Linked DNA regions of Homo sapiens: region 2 is reported to be linked to region 1. Evidence: microRNA targets listed by miRTarBase, many of them from high-throughput screens and not tested one by one. Region 1 holds a microRNA gene; the other region holds the end of a gene's coding sequence. Distances are between the middles of the regions.
Evidence for each region. Region 1 holds the annotated microRNA hsa-miR-1295b-3p (AAUAGGCCACGGAUCUGGGCAA, at 2,986-3,007, opposite strand). A microRNA usually pairs through its seed, bases 2 to 8, with sites in the 3' UTR of a target mRNA and lowers its output. Matches are read on the target gene's strand: a 7mer-m8 pairs with bases 2 to 8, a 7mer-A1 pairs with bases 2 to 7 and ends in A, and an 8mer does both.

Region 1 (4,680 bases):
TCCCACCTCAACCTCCCTAGTAGCTGGGACCACAGGCATGTGCCACCACATCCAGCTAATTTTTGTATTTTTTGTAGAGACATGGTTTCTCCATGTCACCCAGGCTAGTTTCCAACTCCTGGACTCAAGCAATCTGCCTGCCTTGTCCTCCCAAAGTGTTGGGACTATAAGATGGGCCATTGCACTTGGCTCCTGTTGTTTATTTTATTAGTCCTTTCAAATAATTAACTTTCAATTTGTACATATGCTTTTTTACATTTTATAAATTTATTTTATATCCCCTTCATTCTATGTTCTTTGAGTTTATTCTGTCTTTCTTTTACTAATTTTTTTAAACTTTCTTACCTTATTTTTAAACTTTTTCATTTTCTAATATAAACATTTACATTTATAATTTTCATGAAAATATAGCTTCCTATGTTTCCCACAAGTATTGATACATAGACTAAATTAACATTCAGTTATAGATATTTTTAAATTCCCATTGAAATTTCTTCTTTGACCTATATGTTATTTAGATAAAAAGAGTTTTTAATTTCCAAATTCACAGGTATTTTATATTTATTTCTTTGGTATTGATTTCTAAATTAGTAGTGATTTAGTCTAAGAACTGTAGGTGGTCAAATTTTGTGAATTTTCTATGTATCCTTGAGAAGAAGGTAATTCTCTAAACCTAGAGTTAGAGAGGCCACACTGTTAAAAATGTTGACAAATTAGAAAGGGAAACTGAAAGGAACAAATGAGAATCCAGTAGTAGACATAGACTTCTTCAGCATTATGACAAGAGCTAAATTGTTGATAACATCTTACCTTAAATTGTATGTACTTCAGGAGGTTCTTTTCTTTGGCAAATGCAATGATATATTCCTGGATCTTGCTGTTGTGCATAAAGTTGGGGAAGTCATCGGGAAATGGGAAGTCTGGGAAACACATCATCTCTTTGGAAGAGTTGGAAAAGACTGATTTGTAAATGCTAGCCCTGCCCTCCTCTGCATGGTCCTGTGAATGTATAGTATCAAATGGAAGCGAATTGGTAAATGAGTATACTGATCATGGTCAGGGCTGGTTCCAAGTAATTACAGTCATCCCTTGGTATCTATGGAAGGTTCCAGGACCTCCGTGGTTACCAAAATCTACGAATGCTCAAGTCTCTTACATAAAATGATATAGTATTTTCGTATAACCTATATACAGATACTTTAAATCATCTCTAGGTTACTTATAATACCTAATGCAATGTAAATGCTTAATGAATAGTTGTAGTGTATTGTTTTTTGATTTTGATTTTGATTTTTTATTTTTATTTTTGGATTTTTTAAATCAATGGTGGGTTGAATCTGTGGATGCAGAACTTGCAAAAACAGATGGCCAAGTGTATACTTATTTGAGTCATCCTTTATCCACAGTAAATTCGGTAAGACACACATAAATTAACTTCACTTCAACAATTGATGCTAATCATGGAAACTTACTAAGGGAACTTAGGATATGGAAGAATACCTTTCTTAATATCTTTTAAGAAAATATATCTTAATCTTTTCTAAGGGAAACAAATTTTAAATTTCATTATGTCCTTTAGGCCTATGTAACTAGAATCCTTTCATTCCCTTGAACCATTAAATATGGTGACAGAGATTTTTCAAAATTCAACCTTGCATAATTTCAATGTGTCAACTCATGAGCACAAGCATCTAATGGTCAATTTATAAAAGCAAACAGTAACAAGAGGTTGCAACTATTGATCAGATTTGTAAATGTAAGCATTTTAAGACCTAATTTTTAAAAAATTAACCTTAGAATTTCTATAATGTATAAAATAAGGTTAACTATTTTGAATCTAACACAGAATTTATGGGCATTGCATGCCTTTTAAGCACTTATGTAAGTAACAAAGTTTTAGCTTTCAATGATGTAAAAATATCTGAATTTTCTTTAACTCTAAGGAATTATAGAACTATGCTAATAAAGCCTTAGAGGAAATGTTAAGTGATGATGAATAAAGAAAAAGAACATTGAAGAAAGAATGATCAGTAATGAGAAGTTTAGGATATTGTGTTGTGGTTCTTTAGCCACACACTGAAATAAACTGGGAGCTTTAAAAAACACACTGAGCATTAGGTCCCACTCTCAGAGAATTTGATTTAATTGACAGCAAGTTTTAAAAGCTCTTCAGGTAATTTTAAGGTGCAGCCAAGTTTGTCAGTCACAATGTAGAGTTCAACAAATGGAAGCTCATGACCAACAGGCTACAGTTACTGTGGAAGAGCTTACCATAGGACACATCTGTTACAGCTGTGAGCTCTGCAAAGCAAGCTGTTGAATGAATAAAAGGCATTAAGTTAAAAAAAAATACTGGTTGGAGCATGATTAGGAAGAGGTGGAGCCTTGGTTTAGCTCTGTTGAAGCATCAAGGTACTTATATCTCAAGTTTCATGATGAAAGATCAGATTGTAGATCTCTATGTGTAGTTGCTAGTTCATAGTGGAAAGTACTGAGCACTAGAAACTTCTAATTAGAGCTCATCTAACTGAAAGTTGTCAGGGCTCCCAGAACATGAAATTTTAGTATAATATTGGAATATTACAATCACGTCAAAAGCCAATGTGGCTGCAGTTTCATTATTGACAAATAATTAATTGGCAGATTAGTTGCCATGTTCATTTCAGAAAGCAGCGTGTTCTTTAAATAGGACATGAGTTTTCTGCTGCTCACATGGTTTGTTGACTCTGCTATAGGCATGTGGGATGGGGAAGTGCAAAAATTTGTAGCTTTCTGTGAGTTGGGTAAGTTTAAAGAGATGATAATCAGCATAAAGAGAGAAGAAACATTAAAGAAAAAAATTGATACATAGTCCAGAAAAAAATCAGAGGAAGTTAAAAAAGGGAGGTATTCCCAGAAGAAAGCCACTATTCATAAAACTTCATGCAAAAATTCATATGATTTACTGATTTATTGTTTGGGGAGCTCCTGAGAAAAGAGGACATTTTGCCCAGATCCGTGGCCTATTCAGAAATGTGGCCTGTGATTAGGCCGCAGATCTGGGTGAAATGTCCTCCTTCTGTGACCAAAGAAGGTGAGGGAAATACATCATCGTGGCTCTAGATCAGGGTTAGAAGTCAGAACTAGAAGGGCATAGAAAGTGCTGTAGTAAACAGCTCCAACAGTTTCAACTATATGCACCCTTAGTGTTAGCTAAGTTTTAACCAATGTTTGGATCTCTCTGAAATTTAAAAAAAGTTAAGATAATGTAAAATGATGATGTTAGAAACCAAAGGGAAGGCAAATACAAAATTAGAACAATTTTATAACAATCTTATAATGTGAATACTAAGCCTATTGCTGCAGACTTCTAGTGATCTGAGAAACACTGCTGTTTGCTCCATCATTTGCAATCTATAAGCCCCCTCACAGTAGTAAAATAGGAAACGCTGAAAAACCAAAGGTATTAGTTTCTTGTGGCTGCTGTAATAAATTACCACAAAGTTAATGGCTTAAAATAATAGCAATTGATTCACAGTTCTAGAAGTCAGCAGTCGGGAATCACTATCAGTAGGCTGAAAACGAAGTGTGACAGTACCATGTTCATTTTCAGAGGCTCCAGGAGAGAATCCATTCCTTGCCGCTTCTGGCTTCTGGTGGATGCTGGCATTTCTTATTTTTTTCAGTGGCAAGACCCCTCTTGTACGCCTTCACTCATGGCTCCTCTGGCCATCATCAAAGATAGAGCATAGCATCTTCAAATTTCTCTCTTTCTGTTGAGGTCATCACATCACCTTCTCTCTTCTCTTTGTGTTAAATCTCCCTCTGCCTCTCTCTTTTAACGATGCATTCATTATAGCGTTTGGGGCTCACCCACATAATGCAGAAAAATCTCTCCATCTTAAGATTTTTAACTTAATTATATTTGCAAATACCCTTTTCTCTTGTAAGTAAGATAACATTTACAGGTTCCAGGAATTTGGATGTGATATCTTTGAGGAGGGGCATTGTTAAATTGTTCAGCCTATTACAGGCCATCCTCTGGTTCCCAAGGATTCACATCCATCCCATCTGCAAAATACATTAACCCAATCCCAACATCCTCAAAGTCTCAACCCATAGCAGCATGAAATCAAGTCTCAACTCTCATTTATATATTTTCAATTCAAAAGTCCAAAATCTCATCATCATATAAATTATCTAAATCAGGTATAAATGAGACTCTGGATATGGACCAGGATGAGGCAAAATTTCTATCTGTGAACCTGTGAAACTAGAAAACAAGTTATCTTCTTCCAAAATACAATGGTGGGACAAGCATGGGTAACCGTTATCGACATTCCCATTTAACCGGGGAGGAAAAAGGAGGAAAGAAAAGAATCACTAATCCCAAGCAATTTTGAAATCCAGTAGGACAAATTCCTTCAGGCTTGAAGGCTTTGGCTCAGGCCTCTGCCCTCAGGGCCTGAGGCTCTACCCTCTGGGCTATCCTTTCTTTTTCTTGAAGGGTAGCACATGTTGCAGTTCAGTTTTATCAACCTATGCTGCCAGGTTCAAATTTTAAAGTCTTCCTCGAGCAGCAAGAAAAGACAAATTAGCTGTCTTTGGCTGTGTTCCTCTCAATAGCCATATCAGCAGTGCGTTCTATCTTCAGCAACGTCTTGCAAACTAAATTTGAGTATGAGGCTTTGGTTAAGATCA
Region 2 (4,000 bases), 9.8 Mb from region 1:
GCAGGCTCTTTTTGCTGGCTGAAGTCAGCAGAACCCCAGCCTCCAATGCCAGGCTCTTAAGTCTGTGAGGCATCGGTCATCTGTAAGCCAGGGAAGAGCTGTGCCCAGTGCCTGATGCTTTTTGCCCTCACTGTGTCTCTGGTTCCCTCGCAGGCCGGCCAAGACTTCACCACGGCGTGCCCTCAGTGTGGAGGACGTGGGTGCTCCCAGCCTGGCTCGCACCGTGGGCCGCCTGGTGGAGGTGTTCCCAGACGGCACCAGCCAGCTGCAGCTGCAGCGCTCCCCAGGGGGCACTTTCGGCTTCTGCGTGGCCTCTGGGAATGGGCGCCCAGACTCAGGTATGCCCTCTCCTCTTCCTCAGCCCCATGGCTGGGGCGGCCTTAGCAAACAAGGCAGGGCCTTCTGGCTGTGGTCAGAGGCTTTTCTGGTCTTTGGCTGAGCCGTGCAGCTCTGGGAATTCAGAAAGCCTCTGACTACAGGACTAGGCTTCTCCCCTCAGGGGCTCTTTCTGAATTGTCCAGGGCTCTCTAGGAGTCTGCACCTGCAGAGCCTTTGCCCTAGGCAACTGCAGCTGAGAGTGCGTTGGTGGGGAGTGTGCGGGAGGGGGTAGAGTTGGCAGGTTTGACTCCACTGTCCCCCTGCTGTCTGATGACATCTTGAAATTAGAAGCTTAGGCCGGGCGCAGTGGCTCATGCCTGTAATCCCAGAACTTTGGGAGGCCGAGGCGCCTGGATCACCTGAGGTCAGGAGTTCGAGACCAGTCTGGCCCACATGGTGAAACCCATGTCTACTAAAAATACAAAATTAGCTGGGCGTGGTGGCGCATGCCTATAATCCCAGCTACTTGGGAGGCTGAGGCAGGAGAATTGCTTGAACCCGGGAGGTAGAGGTTGCAGTGAGCCGAGATTGCGCCATTGCACTCCAGCCTGGGCAACAAGAGCAAAACTTCATCTCAAAGGAAAAAAAAAAAGAAATAAATAAATTAGAATTTTGAAGGCCATCTTTGCAGAGGAGAGCCAGAGGGAAACTGTCTGTGCCTGCTGGTTCTCAGCAGTCCCTTTGATGTGGCTGCGTTGAAACGGTTCCTTTCCTCCGGCTGTGGAGTATGTCTGGGCACGTGGAGCATGCCTGTCTGTCTCTGCATCCCGTCCCTCCCTCAGGCCTGTGCCCGATGATTATGTTCAGATGAATCCTGGCTGCAGGCCTCTGACTGGGGTGTGCTCTGGGTCTCAATTCAACCCAGGCAATGGCAGGGAGAAGTCCTGGACATCATTCTGCACTCTGACCAGTTCTCAGTTCCACCCCATCCATGAGTCTTTCAGGGCAACGTGACTTGCAAAAGCCCACGCCCAAGGTCTGTGGTCCAGAATGCATCTCAAGGGCCCATAAAAGACATTCCCCAGAGGATCAGGGAAGGAAGACACGTATGTGAGGGTGGGGAAGGAGGGGAGGGGAAGGAAGGAGAGAGAAAGGGAGAGACAGATACAGAAAGACGAACACAGAAGCCTGCTGCGGCCGGGCTCTGCCGATGGGGGGTTGAGTCCTGTGCTTTGATCTCCTAGCTCAATGCTGTTTAGCCTGGAAAAAAGTCTGCCTGCTACCACATTTGCAGACCACAGCATGAGTTCTCATGTCTGTTCCATCATTGTTTCAGCAAATATATACTAAGCACCTACTATGTGTTATAGATACGGGGGATACAGCAGTAAATGGAACAGACCAAATCCCTATCCTCATGAATATACTACCCAGTGAGCAGTTAGATTGTATCTATAAAATGTGTACTCTTGTTATGTATAATGTGCTACGTATGTCAGATGGTGAAAAGAAAGTTCTGAGAAACAGACAGATAAAGCAGGTGTGGCAGGTGCTGGTATAGACAGGAGTGTGGGGAGGCTTTTCTGAGAAGATGACACTTGAGCAGGGCCGTGGATGGGGCGAGGAAGGGGCCCCATGGGTGTCTGGGGAAGAGCATTCCGGCAGACTGAACAGCAAGTGCGGAGCCCTGGTGGAGGGGCGAGCCTGGCCTGTGAGAACTGTGAGGGTCAGGCTGGACACTGCAGAGCAGGCAACGGGTTGGGAGGAGCAGAGTTTGGAAAGATGGGGTTGTGCCACTGTAAGGGGCTTTGGCTTTCATGCCGAATGAGATGGGAGCCACTAGAGGGCTCGGAGCGAGCACTGAGACTCTCTAATGTCTATGAGAATAGACCCCAGTGGGACACGGGTGGAGCCAGGGAGCCCTGTGTTGAAGCTATTTCAGCAGTCCAGGACAGAGACAGTGGTGCCTGGACTGGGAACGGCTGTGGAGATGGGGAGAGGGGAGAGGGGACAGGGGTTGGATTCTGGTTGATTTGACTATTTGCTGATGAGCTGGACATGTAAGAGGAAGAGAGGACAGGTCTCTGCCTACTCTGGACCTCAGGAGGATAAAAAGTCCTTCCTCACAGGCCTTCCCGTAGCCTCCTCTCCCGTTAGGGGAGCAGGACAGGCCCCCCGGACAGGTGGTGTGAAGGCAGAGGCAGACAACGCAGCATGTTTGTGCTCCGGCACCTCTGCTGGCTATGTGATCTAGAGCAGGCGACATCCCCACTGAGCCTCACTCAGTTCCCTAATCTGTGAAATGAGGATGACAAAACCTACCTAGAAGAGTCATAAGGAGCATTTGGTAAGGCACACAGGAAAGGGCCTAGCATTTTTCTTCCCTCCCCTTCAGAAAGAGAAAGTCTGGGGAAGAGAACCCCAGACAGGGACCAGCGTGATCCGCATTCACCTGTCGATGTGAGTGCACACACAACAGGTCATTGTACTCTGCCGCCCACCCTCCCCCAGAGTCCCTTTTTGCTCCCTTGTAGGCAGTGGGAGCCCCTCCCTGTCACCCGTCAGGGAGCTCTGATGGGCAGGGGTCTCTAGTGACCCAGGGCCCCCGGCACCCTCGCCTGAGTTGGTGCCAGCTCCCCGTTGTGCCCAGGCACTCCCTGGTCCTGCTGCCATCATGGGCGCTGGATGGCACACAGGGGTCCCCACGCACATGAAGCCTGGCGAGTGCTGGGGCCTCCGTGTCCCAGGCCATCCTCCAACAGCAGAGGGTCGCTTCTTCCAGGCTCCAAGGGGCTGTGAGGAGGGCTGGCTTGCGCCCCGCACTGAACCGGCAGGATGCTGGTATTAACTTGCTGGCTTTCACATCCGACTCTATATGAGCCTGTGAGAACAGCAGGCTTTGCCTTCTGCTTCTAATTGGATACAACATAGAGATCACACATCCTCAACAAAGGCCATTTCCAGCAGACAATAAATGCCTATGACAGCAGGCTGTCATATTTGTGTCACGAATTTCAGTTGCGAAACCTACCCGAGTCTCCCCAAAATGGCAGGCGTGACGTCAGTGTCTGGCCTAGCTCTGGCAGCATTCTTTCAGGGTTTATCATTAGTCCCCACCTGCAACTCCCACAGCACATCAGACACTTCTCTGGGTTTGCCCCAGGGGCCCCTTCTTACCTGCCCCCTCCCCGTGCCACCAACCCGTAGACAGGGAGGGCAAGCAGTGAAAGGTCCATCTAGAGGAGGTAAAAGACAGGGCTGAGGGAAAACGCCTTGTACAGTCAGGATGGCAGATGTACTCTGTCAGGGAAGACAGCCCCACAGAAAAGGCTCGGCTTGGCCAAGAAGCAACAAAAGGGATTCTACACCTCAGACCAGGGAGGGGGAATGTGTACAAAGATTGGATTTACTAAATTCAGAGCCACAGACTTTCAGGTACTTCGGTGAAGATCAGTGCTCTTTCAAACCCACACTTCAGAGGCAGGCTTTAAAACGCCTGACTTCTGTCAGGGCCACAGGCTGGGCTGCCCAAAGCTCCTACGGGGCTGGGGGATCCGAGAGAGGACTTCCCACTAGTCCAAGATGTGGTGACTAGTTTCAAGCCAGAGATTGAGGAGCAGACCTGATGCCCTTTCGGGCCCCTGCTAAGAACCTGATTCGAGGAAAAGGAAGTGAAGACAGT

Region 2: miRTarBase lists KIAA1614 as a target of hsa-miR-1295b-3p. Seed matches in the 3' UTR shown: 7mer-A1 at 827-833.

What each region holds. Positions count from the first base shown.
Region 1 is chr1:171,100,104-171,104,783 of GRCh38, reverse strand. It overlaps MIR1295B (microRNA 1295b), which reads right to left and starts at 3,045; the gene lies at 2,986-3,045. FMO3 (flavin containing dimethylaniline monoxygenase 3) reads right to left here. Exons shown (of 9, transcript NM_001002294.3): 3 at 811-999. MIR1295A (microRNA 1295a) reads left to right here and starts at 2,978; the gene lies at 2,978-3,056.
Region 2 is chr1:180,945,150-180,949,149 of GRCh38, forward strand. It overlaps KIAA1614, which reads left to right. Exons shown (of 9, transcript NM_020950.2): 9 at 154-4,000. The coding sequence ends at 439. Among named protein-coding and RNA genes, the nearest start is that of KIAA1614-AS1, 7.7 kb to the right of the region's middle.